Homo sapiens: one gene and its partner. The protein of the gene in region 1 purifies or fractionates together with the protein of each later gene. This does not show direct contact. Each region holds a gene or a part of one and is shown in the gene's direction. Other genes may lie near its edges.

What was found.
Region 2: the proteins of LSM14A (region 1) and EDC3 purify together in Homo sapiens (affinity purification with mass spectrometry; 2 studies listed by BioGRID). This does not show direct contact.

What each region holds. Positions count from the first base shown.
Region 1 is NC_000019.10:34,164,955-34,180,828, forward strand, and holds the start of LSM14A (protein LSM14 homolog A), read left to right. Parts: upstream 1-7,549; 5' UTR 7,550-7,688; coding exon 7,689-7,809; exon of another isoform or gene 7,810-8,518; intron 8,519-15,874. UniProt on the Homo sapiens protein: Essential for formation of P-bodies, cytoplasmic structures that provide storage sites for translationally inactive mRNAs and protect them from degradation. Acts as a repressor of mRNA translation. May play a role in mitotic spindle assembly.
Region 2 is NC_000015.10:74,689,729-74,705,291, reverse strand, and holds the start of EDC3 (enhancer of mRNA-decapping protein 3), read left to right. Parts: upstream 1-9,267; 5' UTR 9,268-9,412; intron 9,413-9,476; exon of another isoform or gene 9,477-9,926; intron 9,927-12,273; exon of another isoform or gene 12,274-12,406; intron 12,407-15,563. UniProt on the Homo sapiens protein: Binds single-stranded RNA. Involved in the process of mRNA degradation and in the positive regulation of mRNA decapping. May play a role in spermiogenesis and oogenesis.

The sequences.
Region 1 (15,874 bases):
TGGGTGACAGAGCAAAAGCCTGTCTCAAAAAATTAAAAAAGAGAGAAATCCATTAATCTGGGGATCAAGTGTACTAACACTAAGGTGAGATGCAATCTCAGGATAAGACTTTGGAGTATTGTTTACCATATATACATTTTGTTTGTTTGTTTGTTTGTTTGTTTGTTTGAAACGGAGTCTGGCTCTGTCACCCAGGCTGGAGTGCAGTGGCGCCATCTCGGCTCCCTGCAGCTCCCTGCTTCCCAGGTTCAAGTGATTCTCGGGCCTCAGCCTCCTGAGTAACTGGGATAACAGGTGTGTGCCACCATGCCCTGCTAATTTTTTGTATTTTTACAGTATCTCATTGTGTTGGCCAGGCTGGTCTTGAACTCCTGACCTCAAGTGATCTGCCTGCCTCGGCCTCCCAAAGTGCTGGGATTGCAGGCATAGGCCACCACGCCCAGTCACTATATCTAATTTTTACTGGTTTCCAGAAAGAACTAATCGTGCTGTTCCAAGAAGTGAAGTTAGCCAACAGGATCTACTTCCTCTTTCAATCCAAGGCCACGCTCCTCCCAGACAACCCCAGCCAACGACAGAACACAACAGGGGTACTAGGGCCTAACCATTTCTGTTCCAAAGAGCCATCTTCACTCCAGGGCTTCCTGTTGGGTTGGCCAAGACGTTGTCAGATCTGCAGTACGGTCTGGGGCTCTCCCTGCTCAATCCTGCTTCTTCTCCGTTTTACCTTTCTCAGGCATTACCTCCAATAAACCTCTTAACTCTGGCTCAGCATCTAATTCTGAGAAGAACCAACAGACACACATGGCTTTAGAACTCAACCTGTGGACTGGCCTCCCAAAGTGCCTGTAATCCCAGCACTTTGGGAGGCCGAGGCATGTGGATCACTTGAGGTCAGGAGCTCCAGACCAGCCTGGCCAACATGGTGAAAACCCGTCTCTACTAAAAATACAAAAATTAGGTGGGTGTGGTGGTGCATGCCTGTAATCCCAGCTACTTGGGAGGCTGAAGCACGAGAATCGCTTGAACCCAGGAGGTGTAGGTTGCAATGAGCCGAGATCATGCCACTGCACCCCAGCCTGGGCCATAGAGTGAGACCCTGTCTCAAAAAGAAAAAAATTCAACCTGTGTAAGATGTGTCTCCTCCAATGTGTGTAAGATGACTGACCCAATACCAAGCACAAAGTAGACTTTGTGTACTTTACAAAGTATACAATACCAGTAGATGTTAGATATCTTTGCCTTTTGCATCATTTAGGATATGTGTTTGCTGGTCAGGAGAGACTCAAAATAACACTGCCACAAATAGTGTCACAAAATTCCTGGACTTCTAGCTGATCCTGTGAAATAGTCAGATAAGTGAGTAAAGCCATCTTGGACCCTCTAGACCAGGCAAGCTGCCCTCAATGATTCCAGTTGAGGCTACACGGAACTGAATTGCTTAGTCAAGCCTGATCCATGAAATTGAGAGGTATAATAAAGTGATAATTGTTTTAAGTCACTGAATTTGGGGGTGGTTCCTATAAACAGAACACATCTCCTAACTAATACAGAGACAAAAACTTACCTTAAAAGTTTATATCTAGGCCGGGCATGGTGGCTCACGCCTGTAATCCCAGCACTTTGGGAGGCCGAGACGGGCGGATCACGACGTCAGGAGATTGAGACCATCCTCGTTAACACGGTGAAATCCCTTCTCTACTAAAAATACAAAAAATTAGCTGGGCATGGTGGCGAGCACCTGTAGTCCCAGCTACTTGGGAGGCTGAGGCAGGAGAATGGCGTGAACCCAGGAGGTGGAGCTTGCAGTGAGCCGAGATCGCGCCACTGCACTCCATCCAGCCTGGGCGACACAGCGAGACTCCATCTCAAAAAACAAACAAACAAACAAAAAATTTTATCTAATACCATGGTACCATAGCATTTGGAAATTACTGCTTTCCTCCTTTATTTTCATATGTTGTTTGTTTTTTTTCCTTTTAAGAAAGTCTTTATACTCACACAATTCTGTATTCAGCTTTTTTACTTACATATTATTTCAAAAGCAAGTGCCTGTTTTTGCTACATAAACTTAGTTTTTAATAGGGCCATTTTACATGGAAAGTTTGCCTTTTTGAGATAGAATTCACATATCATAAAATTCACTCTTTTTTTTTTTTTTTTTTTTTTTTTGCGATGGAGTCTTGCTCTGTCGCCCAGACTGGAGTGCAGTGGCGTGATCTCGGCTCACTGCAACCTCTGCCTCCCAAGTTCAAGCAATTCTCCTGCCTCAGCCTCCTGAGGAGCTGGGATTACAGACGCCCGCCACCACGCCCAGCTAATTTTTTTTGTATTTTTAGTACTACGTTGGTCACGTTGGTCTCGAACTCCTGACCTCGTGATCTGCCCACCTCAGCCTCCCAAAGTGCTGGGATCACAGGCTTGAGCCACCGCGCCCGGCCCTAAGTTCACTTTTTAAAGTATACAATTTAGTGGGTTTTCGTATATCCACAAAGCCATGCAACCATTATCATTATATACTTCCAGACATTTTCTTTTTTCTTTCCCTTTTTGAGATGGAGTTTCACTCTTGTTGTCCAGACTGGAGTGTAATGGCACTATCTTGGCTCACAGCAGCCTCCGCCTCCCGGATTCAAGCTATTCTCCTGCCTCAGCCTCCCAAGTAACTGGGATTACAGGCGTGCGCCACCACGCCTGACTAATTTTTTTGTGTTTTTAGTAGAGACGGGGTTTCACCATGTTGGCCAGGCTAGTCTTGACCTCCTGACCTAAGGCGATCCACCAGCCTCGGTCTCCGAAAGTGCTGGGATTACAGGCACAAGCCCCTGTGCCCATCCTACTTCCAGACATTTTTATCACCCCAGAAAGAAACCCTGCGCCCCTTGGTAGTGACTTCCCATTCCTACTCCTCACCCCCATGTCCCAGCCCCTTGCAGCCACTAATCTACTAATATTTTCTGCCTCTGTGGATTTGCCTGTTCTTGGTGTTTCTTTTTTTTTTTTTTTTTTTTTTTTTTTTGAGACAGAGTCTCGCTCTGTCGCCCAGGCTGCAGTGCCTCTCGAGTAGCTGGAATTACAGGCATGAGCCACTGACAGTGAGCTTATCCTTTTTCCATCTGTAACAATTTCCAAATGTACACCTCCATTTCAGATCTCCTGACTTTTAGGGTCATACCAATTATGAAATAGACGCAATTGCTTGGTGTCCCAACAGGCACTTCCAGCTCAACAAGTGCAAAATTATTTGCATCTATTAGTATTTCCATCCTCCCCCCAAATAAACTTCCTTTTATCCGTTCTCCTTATGCTCATCACTAGCCCTAGGACTGACCTAGGTGTTCAGTCCTGGAACTAGGAGTCCTTATCTGGCTACACCCAATCAGTCACCAATCTGTTAGATTCTACTTTATGTTTTGCAACTCATGGTTTCCTGCACCCTAGGGCGGCAGGAACTATGTATAATGCAGCTGATCAGTTGGTAGCCCCTAGTGTAATATGCACATTAATCTCCGTTTCATGTACTAGAAACAAGGTTGAGAACCGTGACACATTTTATGACCATCGCAGGCTTCCTAAAGATCCAAAATCCATTGTTGCTTCCCTGCTTAAGAGCTCCCGGCAACCTGCAGAAAAACTAAATTCTTCCCCATTCATGTTTTCAGCAGTAGAAGCTCTAGAATTTCTACACTTGAGGAGCTATGGGGTAAGAAAGAAGATCTGGAGGATTTGCGAGGCTTGTCCAAAGCAATTCCCAGCTAGTACACTGTTTTTTCCTTATATTTGTCTTTACTTTATGAGGCTAGGGGATGGCTGTTGGACAATATGGGAGAAACAAAGCCCTCAACCCTCACCACCTTTGGTGTGGCCACTGCTATCCACTATAACTCCTAATATACTCTGCATTCTTTAGGCTGTGGCCACACTGAATTGCTTACTTTCCAGAATGCATCTCACTCTTCCTCCTGTAATCACTCCATCTCCTGTTTGATCTGAAAGCTTCTTAATCCCATCTCTATTTCAGGCAAGATTTGAAGTCCCCCTCATACCATAGACAAAAATTGGCTCAAAATAAATCAAAGACCTAAATGTAAGAGCTAACACATAAAACTTAGAAGCAAACATTATGGGTAAATATTTGTATCCTGGATTAGGCAATGCTTTATTGCATATGACACCAAAAGTGCAAACAACAACAACAACAAAAATGAATAAACTGGACTTTATAAAAATTAAAAACTTTTGTGCTTCAAAGGACACTATCAAGAAAGTGAAAAGACAACCAATCCGCTGAATAAGAGAGACTATTTACAAATTATAGATCTGATTAGGGACTTGTATCTAGAATATATAAAAGAACTCTTGCCACTCAACAATAAAAAGAAAAATTGCCCAATTTAAAAGTGTTTAGCTGGGTGTGGGGCTCAACGCCTGTAATTCCAGCACTCTGGGAAGCCAAGGCGAGAGGATCACTTGAGTCCAGGCATTTGAGACCAACCTGGGCAACATGGCAAGGCCCTGTCTCTACAAAAAAATACAAAAATTATCTGGGCATGGTGGTTTGCACCTGTGGTCCCAGCTACCTGGGAGGCTGAGGTGGAGGATTGCTTGAGCCCAGGAAGGTTGCAGTGAGCCATGATAGGGCCACTGCATTCCAGCCTGGATGACAGAGTGGCACCCTGTCTCAAAAAGATACACAAATGGCGGGGTGCGGTGGCTCACGCCTGTAATCCCACCACTTTGGGAGGCCAAGGAGGGCGGATCACCTGAGGTCGGGAGTTTGAGACCAGCCTGACCAACATGGAGAAACCCCCACTCTACTAAAAATACAAAATTAGCCGGGCTTGGTGGTGCATGCCTGTAATCCCAGCTACTAGGGAGGCTGAGGCTGGAGAATCTCTTGAACCCGGGAGGCGGAGGTTGCGGTGAGCCAAGATCACGCCACTGCACTCCAGCCTGAGCAACAAGAGCGAAACACCGTCTCAAACAAACAAACAAAAAAAGATAGACAATAATAGGTGTTGGTGAGGCTGTGGAGAAAATTGGAGCCCTCATACAATTGCCAGTGGAAATGTAAAATAGTGTAGCTGCTTTGGAAAACAGTTTGACAGTTCCTCAAAAAGTTAAACTCTGAGTTACCATATGGCTCAACTACTTCATTCTTAGGAGGATTGAAAACACATGTTCCCACAAAAACTTGTTCATAGAGGTACTCATGGATATTTATAATAGCAGAAGTGAAAACAACCCAAATGTTCATCAACTGATAAATGGATAAACAAAATATGGTATGTCCATACAAAGGGATATTATTTAGCCTTGAAAGAATTTCCGGGCACGGTGGCTCACGCCTGTAATCCCAGCACTTTGGGAGGCCAAGGCAGGTGAACACTTGAGGCCAGGAGTTCAAGACCAGCCTGGCCAACATGGTGAAACCCATCTCTACTAAAAATACAAAAAATCAGTCAGGCGTGGTGGCATGCGCCTGTAATCCCAGCTACTCGGGAGGCTGAGGCAGGAGAATCGCTTGAACAGAGGAGACAGAGGTTGCAGTGAGCCGAGATGGCACCATTGCACTCCATCCCGAGTGACAGAGTGAGACTGTCTCAAAAAAACAAAAACAAATAATTCAACTTCCTCGCATGGACCTTGTACTGAAACAGGGATTTCCAAACCTTTCTTTGTAGCCACTGTGCACCAGCCCCATCAGAGCTCTGTCTCTCTCCTGTGTCCCTCTCTTATGATGCCAGGCTTCTCGCCATTTGCTCACTCAGCTCACCGTCCTGCCTGTGCTCTGCCTTCATCCTGCTGTTCATTCATGCAGCAAATATTAACTGAGCAGCTGCCCTGAGCCACGTGCTGTTACTAGGCCCCTGATGATACGGCAGCAACCAAAACAACATCACTATCTCAAAATGTTTACATTCTAGTGAAGGAGACAGATACATACAAATAATTAAACAGACATACTTGAGAGAGATACATGCTATAAAGAAAATACAAGCTGAGTTAAGGAGATGAGTGGTATTATTTTAAACAAGGCTGTCAGGGACGTCATCTCTGGAGGTGATGCTTGAGCAGAGACTGGAATAAAGTGCTCAAGTACTGGTTGAATTAGACGCGACTGGAACAGAACGAGAAGCTAAATCATGTATATCCTTAGACACCAAAGTCTGGTTTTCTCTCTGTGTAACATGGGATCAGTAGAGTGAGTAGAGGAAGGACATGATCTGAGTTAGATTTTTTTTTTTTTTTTTGAGACGGAGTCTCGCTCTGTCGCCCAGGCTGGAGTGCAGTGGCACAATCTCGGCTCACCACAACCTCCGCCTCCTGGGTTCAAGCAATTCTCCTGCCTCAGCCTCCCAAGTAGCTGAGACTATAGGCGCGCGCCACCACGCCTGGCTAATTTTTTTATATTTTTAGTAGAGACGGGGTTTCACCATGTTGGCCAGGCTGGTCTCGAACTCCTGACCGGTGATGCGCCCGCCTCGGGCCCCCAAAGTACTGGGAGTACAGGCGTGAGCCACTGCGCCCAGCCCTGAGTTAGATTTTAAGAAGATCTCTCTGGCTGCTGTATTGAGAATAAAGTACTGGGGGCAAGAGTTGACACAGAGGCAACTTTTAGAAGGCTACTGCAATAATTCAGCCCGAGTAATCGTGGCTTGTGGGAGAAGTGTAGGAATGGAGATGAGAAGTCAGATTTAGGATATATTGTGTATACATAACGGAGAGGTGTAGTCAGAACAGATGTGGAAGCAAGACAGGGCAAGGCTGACTCACGGCTTTTAGTCTGAGCAGCTGAGTAAAAATGGTACCGTTTACATCAAATAGGGAACGGTGGTGAAGGAGCAGGTTAGAGGGGAAACAGGGAGCATGGCTTTGGACCCTTAACGTTTGAGATTCGACAGAAACCCTGGTTCACGGAATTGATCCAAGCTACATACTGATAATTGGGATTAGTGAGTTACAATGGCGTTGCAAGCCATGAAACTGGTTCAGACCGGCTGAATGAGCGGGACAGGAAGGGGCTGAAACACTTGAGTCCTTGTGAGAGCCCCAGCTCCAGGGGCAGCCTCGGGGGAAGCTCCCCGGGCGATGACTGCGGTAATGGAGCCGTAGGAGCTCCACGAGGTGCAGGTTCAGCGTCTTAGAAGGATGAGCAGCGGCTCGCCACAGCTCGGAGGCGGGTGGGCAGCGCTCCAGGCCGAGGGCCCCGCGTCGGCAAAGACACAGGACCCACGACAAGGCGGCCACGGCCTGAGTCAAAAGGAAGGCCGCGCGCCTCCTCTCCAGCCCGCAGCAAGCGGGTGCCACGAGGCACTCAGCCGGTCCCCGAAGTTCCTCTCACGCGGCCCCAAGACCACCACCGTAGTCCAGGCCAACAAGCGCTGCCGGGACTCCCGAGGCCACGAATGAGCCGGGAGCCACCAGTAGCCGGCCAAGTCTCGCGAGAGCGCGGCCTCGCCCTCCCAGCATGCCCCGCGCCGCCGCCGCTGCCGCCGCCGCCGCCGCCGCCGCGCCGCGGCTTGAGGGCGGGAGGCTGGGGGAGGGTAGCGGAGCCGGCGCCGCCGCCATGTTGGGTCTGAAGCGGCTGCTGTAGGCGCCGACGGAGCGAGCGGGCGTGCGGAGCGGGCGACAGTGGCGTGGGATCTGCCTCTCTGCGAGCAGCTGGGAGCGGCGGCGGCGGCGCCATGAGCGGGGGCACCCCTTACATCGGCAGCAAGATCAGCCTCATCTCCAAGGCGGAGATCCGCTACGAGGGCATCCTCTACACCATCGACACCGAAAACTCCACCGTAGCCCTTGCCAAAGGTACGCGGGACCGGGCCTCAGGGTGGGGGCCGAGCCGGGCGCCGCTCGGGGCTGCTCCCCGCTCCGGCCCGCGGCCTCCTCGTTCCCTCCCCTCCCTCCGTCGAGCTCCGGGAGGCCTCTCGCCTCCCTTCTCCGGGCCCCGGCGTCGCGGGCCGGACCGCGGCCTCCCCGCGGCTCCCTGGTTTCCGCCCCCCGGAATGTCCGCGCCTGAAGCCCGGGGAACTACGGGACTGAGTGCGCGGCGGGCGGCCCTGAAGTCCGAGAACGGGCCGGAGAACACGGAGAAACGCGTCTTCCAACTCCGAAATTCGGGGCTTCTGCCGTCTTAGCACAAAACAAAGCCGGAGTATTCAAAGAATTTTTCCGCCCAGCTTGAGTTCATCGCGGATGCGTTGACTACACAGCACCCATTTTCTCACTTTGTTCATTTCAATTCGTGGCGATCTTCCTCTGGTGAACTCTTGAGTAATGTGCTAAAACTTTGGGTTTGCTCTGCGACGCAGACATTCTCGAAATGCCATCGATGCCGTGGAGCAGATCCCATCTCCCTCGGCTCATCCTCTGTTGGTATTTACCTGTTAAACCGGAATCCTCAAAGCCTGTTGTGCAACCACCTCATTAGGGCGCGTGGTAAAAATGCTTGCTGCTGCCCCGACGCCCCTGTTTCTGGAAACGGGTTCAAGCTTGATCCAGGATCCTTCTTGACCAGGCAAGCTTGACCTTTGATCCAGGCTCAGTGGGCGTTGACTGATCCCTCTGGAGGCTCTCTGGGAAAGGGAATTCGGCCGAGAAGGAAGGTGCCCCTACCCACAGTGTTAATATTTGGCATCCCTAGAGTCTGTGTGGGTTTTGTTTCCGTTCACACGTGCAGGGCCTTTGCTCCGCCAGGAAACCAGAAAGAAAATAAACTTTAGCTCCTGAATCTTAAAGGAAATCTCACAACAGTGTAAAATACTTTGAGGGAAGCTAGATAACCTAGGTGATTTTCCCAGCACTTCTGGTAGAGGTGGGAACTGCATAGCATGGTTAGGGACCCTGTGGATAGGTTAGGTCCAAGGATAAAGAAGAAGATTTTCGAAATCTGTAAAATTTTAAAAATCGTTAACAGATAGGGGAGTGGTTTCACGGGATCAAGTATTTAATAATATTTCTTGGATGCTCTGGTAAATCCTTTATTTATTTATTTATTTATTTATTTTTCTAAGATGGAGTTTAGCTCTTTTTGCTCAGGCTGGAGTGCAAAGGCAATGATTTCGGCTCACTGCAACGTCCGCCTCCCGGGTTCAAGTGATTCTCCTGCCTCAGCCTCCCAAGTAGCTGGGATTATAGGCGCCTGCCACCACCCCTAGCTAATTTGGTATTTTTAGTAGAGACGGGGTTTCACCATGTTGGCCAGGCTGGTCTCGAACTCCTGACCTCAGGTGATCCACCCGCCTCGGCCACCCAAAGTGCTGGGATTACAGGCATGAGCCACCGCGCCCAGCCTCTGGTAAATCTTTTTAATAGCCCTGGTGTTGGGACAAATCTTATACCTGGGTAGGGAACCTTTTGATGTTACAGAACTGTACACCATAAAGGAGTAGTATGAGATGGTGATAGTTGCACAACTCTGCAAATTTGCTGAAGATCATTGAATTATACACTTTTTAAAATCACCAAGTCTAATTTTAAAAGTAGTATGAAAAACCAGGGAGTACCCCCACATTTCCCTCTTCACCTTGTGAAACATTATGCAGTGACACATTACCTCATTAAAACACCTGTAGACTTGGCGGTTAGAAATCGGCTATAGGATGTATGATGGATGGTATTTGGTGTTTATTAAAGACTTTCCCAGTGATGCTTCTTAAGTAACTTAGTTTTTGCTTGGCCTTATTTTGAATTTATTTTTATATTTTTTATACAATAGTTACTTAGCTGTATAGTGTTTTTCTGGCTTTTTGAAATTATGAAAAAGCCTCTCTTTATGAAATTATGAAAAGTGCTGGGTGAGAGCCAGATATGGGTTGAAAATAATTTCTCATTAAAGTGGTTTAATAAATTTGTTTTAAAGTATTGCTTTACCTAATCTGAATTTAAAAGTGTCTTGCCAGCTTAGTGACTCAATAAGTTGGCTGTGTTACCTTTATTCCTCACAAAGAAAAAAAATACATTTGAAAATTTTAAAGTATTTTTGTTCTTTTTTAAAAACTACGAACATATCCTTTTATGCAGGAACCCCAAAAGTCTACATTTTAACAACCCACATTTTAAAAAACTTTTCAGCAGCTTTTAGAGTCAGTATTTCATTAGTCTGTAATAGTTAAATTCATATGACATAATGACATAAAATATAAATTTGTTCTTTGTGTCATGACTTGATAAATATATGAATATAGCAGTGAAAAATTTTTTTAATCATTGAATTTATGTTTGTACTCATGGCTTTGATATTTCATCCCACATCATTATATGCTTTTTCTTTTTCTTTTTTTTTTTTCTTTTTGAGATGGCGTCTCACTCTGTTGCCCAGGCCGGAGTGCAGTGGCACAATCCTGGCTCCCTGTAACCTCTGCCTTCCAAGTTCAAGCAATTCTCCTGCCTCAGCCTCCTGAGTAGCTGGGATTACTGGCGCGTGCCACCACGCTTGGCTAATTTTTGTATTTTTTAGTTGAGACAGGCTTTCACCATATTGGCCAGGCTGGTCTTGAACTCCTGACCTCAAGTGATCCACCTGCCTCAGCCTCCCAGAATGCCGGGATTACAGGCATGAGCCACCGCACCCGGCTGCTTTTTCTTAAGCAACATGAGTTAAATGTGTAACCAGTTTGGGGAATTTGATTATGTTCGCAAAAACTGACATTATCAAACCTTTATATATTAGTCTACATGATATTATCTAATCGAAAACTACATTATAACTGTCTAGTCAATACTGGACACATTTCAGATTTCAAGATTAGAAGCAAGGAGTTCAATCTTAAAATTTTAAAATTTACATGACTTGTTGAGTAATTCGATATCAGAAAATTTCACCTTCCATTTCAAAATTTGAACGAAGAATGGTAGTCTAAAAGATTAAAGCCAAAAGTGTTTGTTTTGTTTTGTTTTCGTTTTTTTTTGTTGTTGTTTTGAGACAGAGTCTTGCTCTTGCCCAGGCTGGAGTGCAGTGGTGCGATCTTGGCTCGCTGCAGCCTCCACCTCCCGGGTTCAAGCAGTTCTGCCACAGCCTTCCGAGTAGCTGGGACTACAGGCGCCCAACACAGCTGGCTAATTTTTGTATTTTGAGTAGAGACGGGGTTTCACCATGTTGGCCAGGCTGGTCTCAAACTCCTGACCTCAGATGATCCACCCACCTTGGCCTCCCAAAGTGCTGGGATTACAGGTGTGAGGCACTGCACCCGGCCTGAAGCCAAAAGTTTATTCATGGAATTTATAATACAGTGTGTATTTGGATGTAGAGATCCCTGTTACTGTTTTTAAACTATGGATTAAGAGTTAATCTCTTTGAGTAACAGTCTTAGCATTCTCTTTTGAACTTTTTTTTTTTTAATTTCTCAGGGAGAGTGTTATTGGGAAACCTAACTACACAGGCTGAAAAGATACATAAGATAAAAATGAAATATTTTTAAACAAACATCTTTGTAACCACCACCCAGGGCAAGACAGACATTGCCAGCATCCCAGAAGCCTCCCACCACCTATATTTTCCCATCACAACTATCACCATCTTAATTTAAGCTAGATATAAATGTTCTTCTGACATTTATAGTTTTACCATATAAGTTTACATCTCTAAATAATAGAGTTTAATTTTGCCCATTTTTAACTTTATGTAAATAGGATTGTGTTGTATATATTTTATTTTTAGCTTTTATTGTTTCATAATATTCCATCATGAATATAACACAAGTTTATTCCTTCTGCCATTGTTTTGGATATTGCATTTAGATTGTTTGCAGTTTGGGGCTATTATAAACAATGCTTTTATGAACATTTCTGTTTAAGTGCACTGGTGCATGTTTATTTCGTTTTCTTGAGATTATATACTTAGAATTTGAATTGCAAGAACATGGGGAATGTTGGTCTTTATCAGGTAATGCCAGGTAGTTTTTCAAAGTAGTTGTTTAGTGGTTTTTACTTCATTTATTAGTATGTAAGAGTTCTTGTTTCATATCCCTTACCAACAACCGTACGTGGTATCATATATTTCAATTCTAGCCAATCCTGGTGGGTATGTAGTTGTATTTAGTTTTAATCATTTCCCTCATTACTAAATGGGGCTGACCAGCTTTTCATATCTGGGTGTTTGGATTTCATTTTTCATAAAATGCCTTTGAAATCTTTTCCTTTTTTAAATCGAAACACGTCTTTTTCTAGAGTTCTGTATTCTGAATATATCTCCATTGTTGGATGTATATATTGCAAACATTTTTTCCATTTAGTAGTTTCTTTAAATTAACAGAAGTTCTTCATTTTAATGTAAACATGTTCATCAGTTTTTTATGGCTAGTGTTTCTTTTTTTAAAACATCATAGAGATACTTTGATTATCTTTAAACCTTTTTGTGCTTTGCTTTTTCACATTGACGTTTATAATGCATCTGAAATTGATTTTGTGTACAATGTGAGATATTCAGAGCTTTATATTTAGTAAGGGATTCACTTGGTTTATATTGTCCATATTATAATTTAGGGCTTGGATATTATAATTTAAATATATCTGGAACTATAAACTACTCTTGAAATTTTTGGCTATTTACATTTGATGTGGTATATAATTAGGGTAACCATATGGCCTAGTTTGCCCTGGTGGAAAGTCCTTGTTTGTGCCTGCTCTGGCATAATTATTAAAAACATCCCGGCTGGGCAGGGTGACTCAGGCCTGTAATCCCAACATTTCCAAAAGGTCAAGGCCGGGGTATTGCTTGAGCCCAGGAGTTCAAAACCAGCCTCGGCAATACAGGGAGACTCCATTTCTACAAAAAATTTTAAAAAGTGCATTAGCCAAGCATGGTGGCATGCATGTCTGTCGTCCCAGCCACTTGGGAGGCTGAGGCAGGGGGATTGCTTGAGCCCAAGAGGAGCTGTGATCATGCCACTGCACTCCAGCCTGAAACATAGAACAAGACCTTGTCTTAAAAAATAACAATGATAGCCTGTAATCCCAGCACTTCAGGAAGCTGAGGCAGGCGAATCACCTGAAGTCAGAAGCTCGAGACCAGTCTGGCCAACATGGCGAAACCCCGTCTCTACTAAAAATACAAAAATTATCTGGGCGTGCTGGTGCATGTCTGTAATCCCAGCTACTTGAGAGGCTGAGGCAGGAGAATTGCTTGAACCTGAAAGGCGGAGGTTAGAGTGAGCCAAGATCACACCACTGTACTCTAGCCTGGGCAACAGAGCGAGACTCTGTCTCAAAAAAAAAAAAAACACAAAATAATAATAATAATCTGTTTTCTCTTTTGAAAATGTTTCAGTGTGGATAAGTTATCACACCACATAATCAAAAGCCTAATTGCAGAGGTGCTGTGAAATGGTCGATGTGCCTTATTTTCTGCTAGAGATGTCACAGACTAGCTTTAGTTCTAGAAAGTGAAACAGGTAAGTTTGAGGGGCTTTGATCCTCGGAACCTAAGCATATGTCAAGAAGTCATAAAGGCAACCTAGAAAGGCTTTGATGTCAATCTGCTATGTATGTTTATAGATGATCTGTGTTGCAGTTTGTTTCTGCAGTTTGTTGCAGTTTGTAGTCTGTGTCACAGCTCTGAATTTATTTTCTTCTCAGCACTGATCATGACTTACACTTAATCTTCTTTGCTTATTTGCATATGTGTTTATTGTCTGTCTTCACCTTCCCCTTCACCTCCAGACTCTGAGCTCCTGGTATGAAAGGTTGTTTAGTTAGTGAGTAAATGGAAATGATTTAGCATTTTAGCTTATTGTTCTTGTAGAAGTATCTTGGGTATACCTCCAAATAATGCTTTTCCATGTTCACAATTGCATTTCCCTATAAAATTAAATTATCCTGCCTCACATTAAGAAATCTTGAAGAATTTCAGTGAGTAGGGATGCAAGAGGATGAAATCTAGTGACATAATTAACATTATTGGGGAGGTAAACTCTTTGTGACTCAAGCTCAATTATAATTTTCATTTAAAGTTTAAAGGAAGCCTCCATTCAGGGTGTAGGAAGAAATTACACAGTGGTGACATGTATGAATATTTTATGGAATAGTTCCAGTTGTGTTTGCACCTACGTCTATAAGTGAGTAGGATGCCTAAATAGGCTAAAATGAATGAAATTCTTATAAAAAATAAATTCTTACATTTAGTTAGCTTACCTGGATAATCATTCAAATGGAAACCAGGTTGCTACTGCACTGGGAAAAGAGACTTTATGAAGAACGATTATATAAGCCACTTGCCTTTAAAATAAGTTGTTCTTAAAATCAAGAGATTGGTGGAAGAATAGAAAAACAAGTAAATTGTTAACAGATTTCTTTAATCATCTGCTAAGTCTGGCTCATTGGCATAATTTATCTACTTCTTGATGTTAGTCACATAGTCATAAACTATTACCTTATTGGAGAGAGTGGAAGAGCTTTGTGTGATGGATAAAATACTTGCGGGGTGCTTTATTTGATTTCTTGCATTACTTGGGGATCTAAATCTAGCAATTCACAAAATTACTATCTAAAATGACAAAGATCTAGTGAAACTTCAAGCCACAGTTTCTTTTTGTTGCCCTATTTAGTGATGTTGCCAGTACTTGGAGCCTTGGAAACAGTTTATTATTGTTACATAGTCCGCAGAAATACTTGGTAATTCTGGGAGTCTGAAGTCAGGTGCCAGAAACTGTTCATTTTCTAGTAGGGGTAAGTAAGGTAAGCCATGATTTTCTAAGTCGGAAGTAAAGAAAACAGCATAAAACTGAAGAAAAAAAATAGTAGAAGGAAGGAAGTAGGAAGAAAAAAGAAATCTTATCTGTGCATGATACATAGCAGGAGTTTTGTATTTAACTCAGTGCCACAGTAATAATAGCAGTAACTACAGATAGTTTAACTTGAATTTAATTATTCCGTGCTAGAAGATGCTTGCTATAGAAACAATTTGTCTTTCTCTCATGATGCTATAAAATAATATATTAATTAGCTGTTTTAAAAACTAGATACCATTGAAGTAAATTTTGTTGTTGTTGTTTTGAGACAAGAGTCTCACTCTGTTGCCCAGGCTGGAGTGCAGTGGCACGATCACAGCCTTGACCTCCCTGGGCTCAGGTAATCCTCCTGCCTCAGCCTCCCAAGTAGCTGGGACCACAGGCACACACCACCACACCCAGCTAATTTTCTGTTTTTTGTAGATACAGGGTTTTGCCATGCTGCCCAGGTCGGTCTCTAACTCCTGGGCTCAAGTGATCTGCCTGCCTTGGCCTCCCAAAGTGCTGGGATTACAGGTGTGAGCCACAGTGTCTGGCTTGAAGTAAGTTTTTTAGTGGACAAAGTGTGAGTTGGTCTGTAAAATAATTTATTCCCAAGGGCCTTATTCTAGTTTTGTAGGGTTTTTTGTTTGTTTGTTTTTTTCTGGAAGAAAATGCGACCCAAAATGCCAGTTGGAATACTTAGCAGCTTTTTGGTCTTGGACAAGTTATTTAACCTTAGCTTTAACTTCTTCATCTTTTCAATAGGGATGGATAATAATGCCCATCTTTCAGAGTCATTCTGATAATTAAATGAGGTGATATAAAAGAAGTAACTAGTTTAATGTTGGTGCTTAATAGAGAATAGCTGTCCCATGTTATTTCCCACCACGATCTCCCTCTCTGTCTAGGTGCTCAGTCTCTCTAGTAGCCCAACTCAGTCAGTCATTCACACCTACTGTAGTCTACTGTCATCTTACTGCCTTTCACTGTCCTCTCATTCCCCTCATAACTTTACTTCCTTCTTTATCCTGCTTCAACTCCATGAGCAACCACGACAGTCAGTACACATTCCCTCAGCCCCCACCCCATTCCCCTCTTGCTGTCTTATACAAGAAATCACAACCCTGATTATATCAACACAGATGTGCTGACCAGCCTCACTCTAA
Region 2 (15,563 bases), on another chromosome or scaffold:
TGGAGTGCAGTTGTGCGATCTTGGCTCACTGCAACCTCCACCTTGGGGGTTCAAGTGATTCTCCTGCCTCAGCCCCTGAGTAGCTGGGACTATGGGCATGTGCCACCATGCCTGGCTAATTTTTGTATTTTTAGTAGAGATGGGGTTTTGCCATGTTGACCAGGCTGGTCTCGAACTCCTGACCTCAGGCAATCTGCCCGCCTCAGCCTCTCGAAGTGCTGGGATTACAGGCATGAGCCACTGCGCCCAGCCTCATTCCTTTTCATGACTGAATAATTTCATTATATGGCGAGACCACATTTTGTATACACATTCATGTGTAAGTTTTTATTTGAACACTTGTTTTCAATTCTGTTAGATGTATGCTTAGAAGTGGAATCGCTGGGTCACATGATAATTCTACATTTAACTTATTGAGGAACTCTCAAACTGTTTTCTGTAGTGGCTGTCTCATTTTCCATTTCCACCAGCAATATTCAAGGGTTCCAATTTCTCCACATTTTTGCCAACATTTATTTTCCTTTTTAAAATTTATAGCCATCCTAATGGGTGTGAAGTAGTATCTCATTGTTTTGGGCCTTTTTTTTTTTTTTTGGCTGTGTTTCATTTTAGAGACTGGGTCTCCCTCTGTCACCCAGGCTGGAGTGCAGTGGCATAAACATAGCTCACTGCAACCTCGAACTCTTGGGTTCAAGGGATCTTCCTGCCTCAGCCTCCCAAGTAAGTGGGCCTATAGGTGCACATCACTGCACAGGATAAATTTTTTTTTTTTGAGACAGAGTCTCGCTCTGTTGCCCAGGCTGGAGGGCAGTGGCACGATCTTGGCTCACTGTAATCTCTGCCTTCCATGTTCAAGCGATTCTCGTGCCTCAGCCTCCCAAGTAGCTGGGAATACAGGCACGCGCCACCATGCCCAGCATATTTTTGTATTTTTAGTAGGGATGGGGTTTCACCATGTTGGCCAGGCTGGTCTTCAACTCCTGACCCCAAGTGATCCGCCTGCCTCAGCCTCCGAAAGTGCTGGGATTACAGGCGTGAGCCACCCCACCTGGCCCACAGGCCAATTTTTTGTTTTTGTAGAGACAGGGTCTCACTTTGTTGCCCAGGCTGGCCTTGAACTTCTGGCTTTAAGCCATCCTCCTGCCTCATCCTCCCTAAGTGATGGGATTACAGACATGAGCCACAGTGCCTGGCTTCATTGTGGTTTTCATTTTCATTTCCCTAATGACTACTGATGTTCAGTGTCATTTTATGTACTTGTTGGCCATTTGTGTATCTTCTTTGGAGACATGTCTATTAAGTACTTTGCTCATTTTAAGATTGAGTTGTTTATCTTTTTGTTGTTGAGAGTTCTTTTTTGTTATTTCTTGTTTTTATTTTTTAAACCCTTTATTGACCAAAAGAAAGTTCTTTACATACTCTGAATACCAGACCGTTATCAGATATATTATTTGTAAATATTTTCTACCATTCCGTAGGTTGTCTTTTCACTTTCTTGATATATCTCTTAATGCACAAAAGTTTTTAATTTTGATGAAGTACAGTTTATTTTTTTCTTGCTTTGCTTGTGCTTTTGGTGTTACATTTAAGAAACTGTTGCCTAAAAGGTTATTATTCTTTTTAATCCTAACCTTTGTTTAGCACTTTATAGTCTGGGGCCTGCTTTTATGTATGTGCATTACTTCATTTATAAAGTGACATTTGAGAATGTAAGAGACTTAAATCTTTGAGATAATATAAAAGAAAAATGATCTTAAGTAACCAAGAATGCTTGCCAGCCTCAAAGCCTATGCCATATAAGTAGGCTGACTATAGAAAGTTATCACCTTTAATCAAATTTTTCTCAATGTATTTGAGAATAAAAGCAGGTGGTATTAATAATTACAATAAGGTAACAGGCATGAACAGGGACTATTCCATCCAAACTGGAACATATGTTTCCCCTACATATATGTAATAAGAGACCTGAGTTCTAATGTCAGATTCAGCATTAACTTGCTAAGCTTTCAGCTATACACATGGGGTGAAGTAGATAATTACTTTTTTTTTTTTTTTGAGATGGAGTCTTGCTCTGTCGCCCAGGCTGGAGTGCAGTGGCATAATCTCGGTTCACTGCAACCTCTGCCTTCCAGGTTCAAGTGATTCTCCTGCCTCAGCCTCCCAAGTAGCTGGAACTACAGGTGCACGCCACCACGCCTAGCTAATTTTTGTATTTTTAGTAGATATGGGGTTTCACCATGTTGGCCAGGCTAGTCTCAAACTCCTGACCTCAGGTGATCCATCTGCCTTGGCCTCCCAAAATGCTGGGATTATAGGGGTGAGCCACTGCGCTCAGTGCTTCCACTTGCTTACCTCCCGTTCTCTCCTCAAACCACTGGCATTTGACTTCTGGGGCCTTTACTCCGATTTAAAACCTCTGTCAAAATCACCAAGGACCTCCTAGTTGCTAAATCTAATGTACATTTTCAGTCTTCCTCTGATTTGAGCTCTTTGGAATATTTAGCACTGTTGACTTCTCTTAAAGATCCTCTTGGTCTCTTTGGCATCACCCACTGCTGGATTTTCCTCTATGTTCCTAGCTGCTGCTTCTCAGTTGCCCTTGAATAGACCTCGTCCTGTGCGTATCCCTTAAATGTCGGTGTTCCTCAGGGTTCTGTCCTTAGCTGTTGACTCTTCTCATGCTATATGCTATCCCTGGACTATAGTGCCCATTATTGGGACTTTAATTATTGCCTGGTAATTGACTTCCAAACCTCATCTTTCTTTCCTGAGCTCCAGATCTATTCTTCCAGGTATACATTTCCATGAGTTTTGCAAATGCATATAATCAAGATTTAGTTCTACCACTCCTCCAACCCTCTCGCCAAATCCTTTACAGTCATACCCTCCCATTTTCTACCCCAGGCAAACACTGATGTTTTCTGTTCCTATAGTTTTGCCCTTTCCAGAATGTCATATAAATAGAATTACACAGGCCGTGCGAGGTGGCTCACGCCTGTAATCCCAGTGGATGGTGGATCGCTTGAGGTCAGGAGGTTGAGACCAGCCTGGCCAACATGGTGAAAGCCTGTCTCTACGAAAAAATACAAAAATTAGCAGGGTGTGATGGCGTGTGCCTGTAGTCCCAGCTACTTGGGAGGCTGAGGTGGGAGAATCACTTGAACCTGGGAGGCGGAGGTTACAGTGAGCTCTTGACAAAAATCTTGTAGTGTGATGGTTTATTTGCTGTCTTGTATGACAAGATGTTCCAGGCACATGATGTATATTTCTTGTCCCAACTTGTATTCAATGTTAACACACTATTGCTGGTGATTGTTGAAAAGACAGGTATCTGGAATATGTCATAGCATGACCCACGTGTCCCTAATTCTGTATGATGTTGATCTTTAATTTGAATTTGTTGTATAATTAACAAACACCCCAAGTTCTAGATTCTGTTGCGAAAACATCCTCTTGTGTAAAACTAGATATGCATTAGTGTGGGAGTGATAAGAGCCCAGGGAAAAAGGTGGGGAAGGAAAGAACCAAATTAGACATTGGAGCAATGAACCTCCAGATTTTTTTGCGTGAATGGGGCATGGGGTGGTATTGAGAGTCTTGAGGAGGGAATGGTGGTGATATGAGGCTTTCCCTTGTAATGTTAAGCAAAGAGCTTGGTGCAGCTCCAAAAGTGTGGTCTTCTGCTTCTGGCCATAAGCATCTGAATTCTGTGAGGAGCTCTTTTTTTTTTTTTTTTTAAGACAGGGTCTCACTCTGTCGCCCAGGCTGGAGTGCAGTGGCATGATTTCAGCTCACTGTAACTTCCGCCTTCTAGGCTAAAGCTATCTTCCTGCCTCAGTCCCCCAAGTAGCTGGGACTACAGGTGTGAGCCCCCACACCCAGCTAATCTGAGGAGCTTTTTAAAATACAGATCCCTGGCTTGTACCCCAGACTAGGCGAATCAGAGTCTCTGGGAGTAAGGCCTGAAGTGGTAGGAGCCTAACCTACTGGGGTTTTATTAAAGCCTAACCTTGCTGTGGAAAGAAAAATACCCAACTTTAGCCTCTTTAGCCATCCTGTCCCACCTAAGGTGAAAACTAAGAAATGCTGGTAAAGTTAATAATATATGCTTATGTATAAGTGGCATGAATGACAACAATGATAGCAGGGACAAGAGGGAAGAATTAGGAATATTTTGTTATTATAAGGTACCTGCACTGTTCATGAGGTAGTATAGTGTTATTTGAAAGTTGAATTGGATTATTTGAAAATGTAAATTGCATATTTGCAAATTCTTGGGCAACCACTAAAACAAAAAAAAAAAGAAAAGAATAATTGGTATGTTAATATAGGTGAGAAAAGAGAATCATAAAAATTCTTAATTAAAACCCCAAAAGGTGGCTGGGTGTGGTGGCTCACGCCTGTAATCCCAGCAATTTAGGAGGCTGAAGCGGGTGGATCACCTGAGGTCAGGAGTTTGAGATCAGCCTGGCCAACATGGCAAAACCCCATCTCTACTAAAAATACAAAAATTAGCCAGGTGTGGTGGCACATGCCTGTAGTCCCGGCTGCTTGGGAGGCTGAGGCAGGAGAATCGCTTGAACCTGGGAGGCAGAGGTTGCAGTGAGCTGAGATGGCACCACTGCACTCCAGCCTGGGGAACAAGAGCAAGACTCCATCTCAAACACACATAAACACACACACACACACACACACACACACACACACACACACACCCCAAAGGCAGAAAATGTGTAGAAGACAAATACAGATAAAAAATAAGGGTAACAAACAGAAAATAGTAACAAGGCCAGGTGCCATGGCTCACACCGCAATTTCAATACTTTTGGAGGCTGAGGCAGGAGGATCACTTAACACCAAGAATTGAAAAGCAGCCTGGGCAACATAGTGAGACTCTGTCTCTACAAAACAAACAAACAAATAAAAAAGCTTAGCAGGCTGGGCGCAGTGGCTCACGCCTGTAATCCCAGCACTTTGGGAGGCTGAGGTGGGCAGATCACGAGGTCAGGCGATCGAGACCATCCTGGCTAACACGGTGAAACCCCATCTCTACTAAAAATACAAAAAATTAGCCAGGCATGGTGGCGGGCACCTGTAGTTCCAGCTACTCGGGAGGCTGAGGCAGTAGAATGGCATGAACCCGGGAGGCGGAGCTTGCATTGAGACGGGGTTTCACTTCGTAGAGATGGCACCACTGCACTCCAGCCTGGGTGACAGAGCGAGACTCCATCTCAAAAAAAAAAAAAAAAAGCTTAGCCAGGTGTGATGGTGGGCACCTATAGTACCACCACTTGGGAAGTGGGAGGATTGCTTGAGCCCAGGATTTAAGGCTGCAGTGAGCCACAATCATACCACTGTACCCTAGCCTGGGTGACAGGGTGAAACTCCAACTCACACACACACAAAAAAAGGGCCTGGTGTGGTGGCTCACACCTATAATCCTAGCACTTTGGGAGGCCAAGACTGGTGGATCACTTGATGTCAGGAGTTCAAGACCACCCTGGCCAATATGGTGAAACCCTATTTCTACTAAAAATACAAAAATTAGCCAGTTGTGGTGGCATGTGCATGTAATCTCAGCTACTCGGGAGGCTGAGGCAGGAGAATCGCTTGAACTCAGGAGATGGAGGTTGTGGTGAGCTGAGATCATGCCACTGCACTCTAGCCTGGGTAACAGAGCGAGACGGTGTCTCAAAAAACAAACAACAACAACAAAAAATGAAAAAAAAAACAGTAACAAATATAGTAGACATTAATTCAACTATATCATTAATTAAGCATCAGTCATCTAAATACACCAATTAAAAGACAGAGGTTCTCAGTATGGATGAAAAACAAGACCCAACAATATGTTGTCTACAAGAAACACATTTTAAATATAAAGACATACATAGATTAAAAGTAAAGTGGTGGAGAAGGATATATCATTGATAACACTAATCAAAAGAAAGCAGGAGTAGGTATACTAACTTCAGAAAGAGCAGATTTAGAGAAACAAAAGGTAGGCTGGGTGGCTCACGCTTGTAATCCCAGCACTTTGGGGGGCTGAGGCGGGCAGGTCACCTGAGGTCGGGAGTTCAAGACCAGCCTGACCAACATGGAGAAGCCCCATCTCTACTAAAAATACAAAATTAGCTGGGCGTGGTGGTGCATACCTGTAATCCCAGGTACTCGGGAGGCTGAGGCAGGAGAATCACTTGAACCCAGGAGGCAGAGGTTGCGGTGAGCTGAGATCGTGCCACTGCACTCCAGCCTGGGCAACAAGAGTGAAACTTTGTCTCAAAAAAAAAAAAAGTCATCAGGTTATAAATCTATACAGCAAAACATATACAAGAGCTATATGAGTAAAACTACAAAACTCTGATCAAAGATATAAAAGAATTACATAAATTGAGAAATATTTCATGTTCACAGATAGAAAGAAAATATAGTCAAAATGTCTGTTCTTCCAAACCTGATCTATAGATTCGATGCAATCCCAATCCAAGTATCAGCATATTATTTTTGTGGATGTCGACAAACTGATTGTAAAATTGATATGGAGATACAAAAGACCTAGAAGAGCCAGCTCACTATTAAAGGAGAACAAAGTTGGAGGACTGATACTACCCAACTTCAAGACTTACTATAAACTACAGTAATAATGACAATGTGGTATTGGTGAAAGAATAAACAATCCAGAAGTAGACCCACATAAACGTAGTCAACTGATCTTTGACAGAGGAGTTAAAGCAATATAATGGAGCAAAGATAGGTTTTTCAACAAATTATGTTGGAACAACTGAATTTTCACACACATAAAAATGTATCAGGCCGGGTACGGTGGCTCACGCCTGTAATCTCAGCACTTTGAGAGGCCGAGGTGGGCAGATCAATTGAGATCAGGAGTTCGAGACCAGCCTGGCCAACATGGTGAAACCTTGCCTCTACTAAAAATACAAAAACTAGCCAGGTGTGGTGGCGGGTGCCTGTAATCCCAGCTACTTGGGAGGCTGAGACAGGAGAATCACTTGAACCCAGGAGGCAGACATTGCAGTGAGCTGAGATCGTGCCACTGCACTCCAGCCTGGGCAACAGAGTGAGACTCCGTCTCAAAAAAAAAAAAAAAATTATCTAGGCAAAGACCTTGCACCCTTCATAAAAATTAACTCAGAATGGATTGTAGACCTAAATGTAAAATGGAACACTATAAAACTCCTGGAAGACAACACAGGAGAAAACCTAACTGATCTTGGGAATGGCAATGACTTTAGGGCAATACCAATAGCATAATCTGTGAAAAATATAATTGATAAGCTGGACTTCATTAAAATTTAAAACTTCTGCTCTTCAAAAGAAGAATGAGAAGACAAGCCACAGACTAGGAGAAAATATTATAAAAGACGTATCTGATAGAGGACTGTTATCTACAATATACCCAGAACTCTTAAATCACAACAAGAAAATAACACAATGTAAAAATGGGCAAAATACCTGAATGAACACTTCATCAAAGAAGATATACACATGGCAAGTAAGTATATGAAAAGATGTTCAATATCATATGTCATTAGGGAATTGCATATTAAAACAATAAGATACTACTACACACTTACTTGAACGGCAAAATACTGACACCACAAAACGCTGACAAGGATGTGGAGCAACAGAAACCCTCATTCACTGCTGTGGGAATGCAAAATGATGCAGCCACTTTGAAAGGCAGTTTGGTAGTTTCTCCCAAAACTAAATATACCATCCAATCCAGCAGTTGCACTCCTTGGTATTTACCCAGATGAATTGAAAACTCATGTCTACACAAAAATCTGCACATGATGTATAGCGGCTTTATTCATAATTACCCAAACTTGGAGGCCACCAAGATGTCTTTCAGTAGGTGAATGGATAAACCGCAGCACATCCAGACGATGGAATATTATTATTCAGCACAAAAAAGAAATGAGCTATCAAGCCATGAAAAGACATGGAAGAACTTTAAGTGCATAAGTGAAAGAATCCGATGTGAAAAGGCTGCATACTGTATGATTCCAACTATATGGGATTCTGGAAAAGGCAAAACTATGGAGACAGTAAAAGGAGCAGTGGTTGCCAGTGGTTAGGGGACTGAGAAGGATAAATAGGCAGAGGACAGAGGATTTTCAGGGCAGTGAAACTATCGTGTATGATACCATAATGGTGGATACATGTCATTACATATATGTCAAAACCCACAGAATGTGCAACACCGAGAGTAAACTCTAATGTAAACTATGGACTCTGGGTGATAATGATGTGTCAAAGTTGGGTAATCAATTGTTACCAAATGTACCACTGTAGCACAAGATGTCCATGAGGGGACAAGTTGTGTATGTGCCTGTGTGTACAGGGGATATATGGGAACTCTGTACTTTCTGTTCAGTTTTGCCCTGAACCAAAAACTGCTCTATAAGTGTTCATTAATAACAGTAATTTTAAAAGACAAGGACCCCTTCTGACCTAGGGAATCTCTGGTGATGGAGGGGGAAGGGTGAAGCAGTCCCCTAGAAAGTGTAGATTTTACAAAGTTCTTCAACTGATTTTGTAGAGCTAGGTTTGGAACTGCTACCCTACTCTATGCTATTCGCCCAAGTAGTGGTTCCCAAACCAGGTGTCAGGCTTCAAGGCTGTGCAATATTCCTCATTACACGGTCTTGGCCCTAAACGCATGCTTTCCCGTCTCCCCACAAATCAAGACTCTAAAATGCCAGGGGTAGAAGAGCGGCACTTTCCTGTGTACTGAGTATGGGGGAAGGGAGAGCAGTCAAGCACGGACTGGCTGATTTTAACCCCCAAAAGGGCTGAAGCTGATACGCTTTGAAGATCGACCACGGCAGGAATATCTTGTTTTCTTTAATCCATCAGGGGGTTGTCGCACTTATTAAGTCCCACAGCTGCAGTTTAGCACGGAGGGGCTGTCACGTCACCAGGCCTCCCTGAAAGTCCTCCGCTCCAGCTCTGCGATTGGCGCTGGGGTAACAGGAGGGGAAGCGGGTGCTTTTCATCGAGCCTGCAAGAGGGGGGCCCAGGCATCGAGGCTGGGGAGTCGTGGGTAGAGCCCCGATTCCAGCCAAGACGCCACAGGACATAAGTAAGCGTGGAGGGCAAAATGACTACCCAAGCGCAATTCTGTAAGGCCGAAGGGACGTTCTTCCAACCTCTTAAATTTCCCGGGTGCCACGCCCCTCAATTGACGGCCCTGGATTCCAAGGTGTCGCGCCGGAAGTGACCTCACGGTGGTGGCGTGGAGACGTGGGGGCGCTTCCGGCAGCGGCGGCGGTGGTGAAGGCCGATGCTGTGGGGGTGGGCGTGGAGAGAATTCTTCTGTGGGTCCTCTGGTGTTGAGTGGTCGGCTTGGTGTGGTGTGCGGAGGAGCTCCAGGCCCGTCGGCGCGGAGGTGGGAGCGAAGGGAGGCTACTGGTTTGTGGACGGTCGTGGGAGGGGGCTGCCGGGGTTGCTTTAGGCTTCAGAGTTCCAGGCCTCGTAGACCTTTATAGAGGCAGGCAGGCAGGCAAGAGCTGGGGGCTTCATCGGATGAGCAGGGGACCACGTACTACGGGCGGCCCCAGGAGTTTGGTTTGAGGTGGAAGGCTGAGGACTGCAGGATTCTAAATAGTATGGGGATTGTGTGGGGAGTGAGGCATTAGCTGCTTGGGCCCTTAGTCCAGCCTTGTTGGTGGCTGCTGCAGTTCTTTGGCTCACTCACTCTGTTCTTCGTGCCTCAGTTTCCCTTTGCATAATGAGATACGGTGGCAGAGAAGAACGCCAGTGCCACATCCATGACTGATAGCTTGAGGACGGAGATGAACTGGAGGGTAGAAAAAGAGGATGCCTGAGAAATTTATACCTACCAGGTCACATCTTCGAATCCCAGGAAGTTATCCCTGGATTCATTTCTGCCTTTGATGCAAGTCTGTGGTTCTTTTCAGTACACTTTGTGTGATATTGATTGTATGTATCAATACTTGACTTGCTGAGTGGTTAAAGTGTTTTGGTTTGTGGGAGGCATAGTCCTTGTTGGCTTGGTCAGTTAATTTTCAGTTAATCTCCCAATAGCAATTGCTTCGCCTAACTCTTCAATTGGGAGATTAGTTGAAAATCAACTGACCAAGCCAACAGTCTTCTCCTGTGGTTACAGGTGAGGAACTCGCGACCCAGAATGGTTTTTCTTCTCTTCCTTCGCCACAGACCAAACCGATTTCAGTCTGCTGTCTCAAATACAGGTCTTCACCCCACCAAAACAGAAATGGCTGTCTCCAAGCAGTTTAGTATTTCAACTGGACACCCAGATGGATCCTAATCTTTTTTTTTTTTTTTAATGAATGGCAGATTACGTGTACTGAGCACAAAATCCTCTTAGCTAGTTTCTCTGTATGATGTAAAAACATGACATTTTGTTTATTACCAATTTCTTGGTAGAGCCTCCTTGGCATAGGGCTGTGGGGCTAGAAAAGTGTCTCAAAATTTTTTACCTGTGACCCACAGTTAGATATATTATACATCATGACTTATTGTGCCCCTGCACACTCAGTGTGTACACACACACACACACCAATGAAAAGTTTACTTACCCTTTCTACAGAAGATGCACTCTAAAAAAATATTGGTTGCAACTCACTAAATTGAGTCTGACCCCTAATAGGTCATGACGTATAGTTTGAAAAATATTAAGGCCGGGCACTGTGGCTCACGCCAGTAATCCCAGCACTTTGGGATGCTGAGGCGGGTGGATCACCTGAGGTCAGGAGTTGGAGACCAGTCTGGGCAACGTGGTGAAACCCCGTATGTACTAAAAATACAAAACTTAGCTGGGTGGTGGTGGGTGCCTATAATCCCAGCTATTTGGGAGGCTGAGGCAGGAGAAACGCTTGAACCTGGGAGGGAGAGGTTGCAGTGAGCCAAGATATGCTACTGCACTCCAGCCTGGGCAACAAGAACTAAACTTCTCAAAAAAAGAAAAGAAAAGAAAAATATTAGACTAGGGCCGAGTGCAGTGGTGGGAGGATTGCTTAAGGCCAGCCTGGGCAACATAGCAAGACTCTGTCTAAGAAAAACAACATTAGAAAATGTTTAAAATCCTTGCCATTTGTGAGATTCTGTAATTAATACAAAATGGAAGATGTATCATTTTTCTTTTCTTATCCAGAGAAGGGCTTACTAGAGTTCTCCTAAATTCAGCCAGAACAACAGGACAGGACATCCAAATTGTGGCTCAAAGGAGTGTAGTGACCATAATGATAGTGTGTCAGAATTTTAGCAAGGCATTTATGAAGTTTTTGTTTTTTTTTTTGAGATGGAGTCTCACTCCATTGCCCAGGTTGGACGGAGTGCAGTGGTGCAATTTCTGCTCACTGTAACCTCTGCCTCCTGGTTCAAGCGATTCTCCTGCCTCAGCCTCCCAAGTACCTGGGACTACAAGCATGCACCACCACGCCTGGCTAATTTTTGTATTTTCAGTAGAGATGGGGTTTCACCATGTTGGCCGGGCTGGTCTCGAACTCCCGACCTCAGGTGATCCACTCACCTCAGCCTCCCAAAGTGCTGGGATTACAGGTGTGAGCCACCGCGCCTGGTCTTACTGAGTCTTACTATAACTGAGTGGGCGAGATGGAGGAATTTGCCAGATTGTGGTAGTTAGATGGAGTCATGAGTTTGAAAATCTATGTATGGAGAGGTTTGATTTGTGGACACTACTTACAGCTGGAATTCCGGTGATCTAAACTGGGGTTTCATCACTTTCTTTATATACTTCATGTATTTGAGACCTTATCTAGAAGGTTTGCTTATTGGATTTGGTGCCTTTGTGAAGTAAAGAAAGAGTCATTTGGTTGGTGATTGCCAGAATGGGAAAAGATCTCAATATAATTTGCTCAGTGCTGTTTAATGAAATGAAGGAAGCATGTATAAATGTGAGAAATTGCGCTTGGGTCCAAACAAAATCAACTATACCTATTAGGGGAGGGTGGAGATGTGACCTCACAGGAGTTCTATAATAAAAAGATGTGATGTTTTAATCACCAATCAGTGGTGTGGTTAAGAAGGCTGTGAGAAGAACCGATGTGACCTGCATTAGTATATTGTATCAGGAAAATGCAAAATCTAGAATGAGAAAGGTTGCATCACTGGTAGGCTTGTACCTGGAATATTAGGTTTAGATCTAGATGTGCTAAGAGTAAATTTATGGGCAGAAGTCAAAAGTTTGAAGATATGGTGGTGTTGCTTTGGCATGAATGATTATTTTTCTCCTTGTCATTTCAGGCTTTCAGGTATAGGCTGGGTCACTAGTCTTAAAACATTTCTTCTTGAGAATGTCTAAAAGACTGTGGAATCTGTTAGATCTTATATACTTTTAAGTTGGCACCTGAAACTTTTCATCCTAGATTTACATAGTGTAAGTATTTAATTTTAAATAGTTTAGGATGTAATTTCTGACAAGTAAATATTGACTTCTTAAAAATAAATATAAAATTACCTAAATACAATATCAATTTGATGTTGTAAAAACATACAACTAAACTTTTGAAACAAAGACTGTAAGAAATACATAACATAGCTTATTACATTACTTGATTTTCAGATGTTAAACCCATCTTGCATTTGTGAAATGAACCCTGCTTAGTAATGTATCTACTACTTTTTACATATAGATGGATTCAATTTGCTAACATTTTGTTAATTTTTGTGACTGTGTTCATGATGGATATTGGTCTGAGGTTTCCTTTTTTTTATGTCATCTTTGGCCTTAGTAGCAGGGTAATTATGACCTCATAAAATGAATTGGGAAGTGTTCCTTCCTCCTCTGTTTTCTGAAATAGTTTGTGTAGGATTGGTATTATTTCTTACGTGTTTCATAGAATTTACCAGTGAAGTCCTATGGGCCTGGGTTTTTCTCTCTGGGAAGATTTTACTAATTCAATTTCTTAATATAGTTAGTTGAGTTAGTTTTGGTCATTTTTATCATTTTGGGAGTTTGTCCATTACATATTTTTCCTTTTTCTTTTTGAACTTGTATCCATTCCACTTTTCCCACAGAATTTTATCCTAAAGCAAAAGTCAACTTTCTGTCAAAGGCCAGATGAAAGGCTTTATGGGCCACATGGTTTCTGTGATTACTGCTTAATTCTCACTGTAGTGAGAAAACAGCCATAGACAATATGTGGCCGGGTGCGGTGGCTCACGCCTGTAATCCCATCACTTTGGGAGACTGAGGCAGGCGGATCACGAGGTCAGGAGATCGAGACCATCCTGGCTAACACAGTGAAACCCCGCCTCTACTAAAAAATACAAAAAAAATTAGCCGGGCGTGTTGGTGGGCGCCTGTAGTCCCAGCTACTTGGGAGGCTGAGGCAGGAGAATCGCTTGAACCCGGGAGGTGGAGGTTGCAGTGAGCCGAGATCGCTCCACTGCACTCCAGCCTGGACGACAGAGCAAGACTGTCTCAAAAAAACCCAAAAAAACCCAGAAAATAGCCGTAGATAATATGCAAGTATTTTTGTGTAGTTGTGTTCCAATAAAACTTTATTGGTAGCAGACCAGATCTGGTTTAGGGCTGTAGTTTTCCTACCCATCCTAAAGTAATAAATTTTATGCCTGAAAATTTAAAATTGATCATCTAGTTATCCACACAGATCAGGTTTATGAGAGTAGCATGGAAGTTGATTCCCTTGCTTGCATATCTTTGTGTACCCCCTACGGACATGTGTATTCCAGTGTAAAGACCAGGACTTGATTTCCAAGATGTTGTAGAGGGAATTCATGTATTTTTGTAATTTTGTTTGGGTGAGAAGTGAGGTGGCCCTCACAGCGCCATAACTTAAGTTCCCTATGTGATCGGTATTCTTTCTGGCAAAAGGAGACATTTGAACTAAAATTTTTTATGTTGTAGACACTATATGGATTATCTCATTTAATCTTAAAATAATCCATATAGTATCTTAAAATAATCCATATAGTATCTTAAAATAATTCATATAGTGGTTCTATGAGATAGGTGTATAATTGGCATAATTCCCTACAGATGAGGCAGTTGAGACTCAGATTAGGTAATTTGCCCAGGTCGTAGTGCTGGTTAGTAAGGAAGTTCAGAAGTGAACCAGGGGCTGTGATGTCTGATTTCATTTTTTTCTTTTTTTTTTTTTTTGAGACAGGGTCTTGCTCTGCCACCCAGGCTGGAGTGCAGTGGTGCAATCTTGGCTCACTGCAACCTCCGCCTCCCAACACTTCTGACTAATTTTTTGTATTTTTTCTAGAGACAGAGTTTTGCCATGTTGCCCAGGCTGGCTTTGAACTCCTAGGCTCAAGCGGTCAGCCCTCCTTGGCCTCCCACAGTGCTAGGATTGCAGACACTAGCCACCTGAGGCGTGAGCCACCACACCCAGTGTGATTTCAGAATTTTATTCTCTTTTCACCGTGCTGCCTTTTATGGAAGATATGGGTTTAGTACTGGATTTAGATAGGGGATTGTGCTGGATTTCTTTTTCTGAGGCGGGGTGGGGGTGGAAACAGTCTTGCTATGTTGTCCAGGCTGGTCTGAAACTCCTGGCCTCAAGTGATCCTCCTGCCTCAGCCTCCCAAAGTGCTGGGATGTAGGGCCTGAGCCATCATGCTGGGTTGCATATTTTCTTTTAAGATCTCTGCCTTTCCCAATATTTTGATTAAACAAACACCTTTCCTGTTGTGTGGAACAATTCCTAGTTTTTCAGAAATCTATAACTACTCACTCATCCACAGCTGTTAATTATAATTGTTTTTAGCAGGCCAAGGGTTGTTTATTGGATCTGAATGCTGTGAGTTGTCTGATGTGGCACAGAGATGGAGGTAGCTAGATTTGTAATTGGCAACTTGTTTATTTGTAATTTATGGATCATTTGGGCGCTGCCTTAGTAATATAATAGATGGAAGAGTGTTTAGCGCTACCTGACTTTGTTATCCAAAGGCTTATCAGAATAATGATAAAGTCCCATTACTTATCTGGCATTCAGTAGTCTGGAAATCCTGATAGTTCAGCATTTGAGCAAAATAGTCCCATAATTAAAAGTAATCTGGAAAATCTTGATTATGTCACATCTGTGGCTCCCTTCCTAGCTACACAGATTGTTAGGATAGATTTTAATAACAAGTTGGCAAAATAAGTGTTGGTTAGCTAGCTGCACAAACATTGCATTTTTTTGAAATATTTAACATTGTTGAATACTACACAGAAAAATTAGTTTTTTTTAGAAGTGGAATTGTTTGAAGGATTTATTGTCATGAATAGGCTTTACAGGGAAGATGTATTTTTTTTTATTGTACATCAAATCCTGTCAGCAAACTTACACTAGTAATGTATTAATGAGATGAAGGATATTCCAAAGTAGCTAGATTTGTAATTGGCAACTTGTTTATTTGTATAAGAACAAAGTGGTAAATGAATTAAAGTATTCTTACCTGGAGGTGTTTAAGAAATGGAGGCAGGGCCGGGCGCAGTGGCTCACGCCTGTAATCCCAGCACTTTGGGAGGCCGAGGCGGGCGGATCATGAGGTCAGGAGATCGAGACCATCCTGGCTAA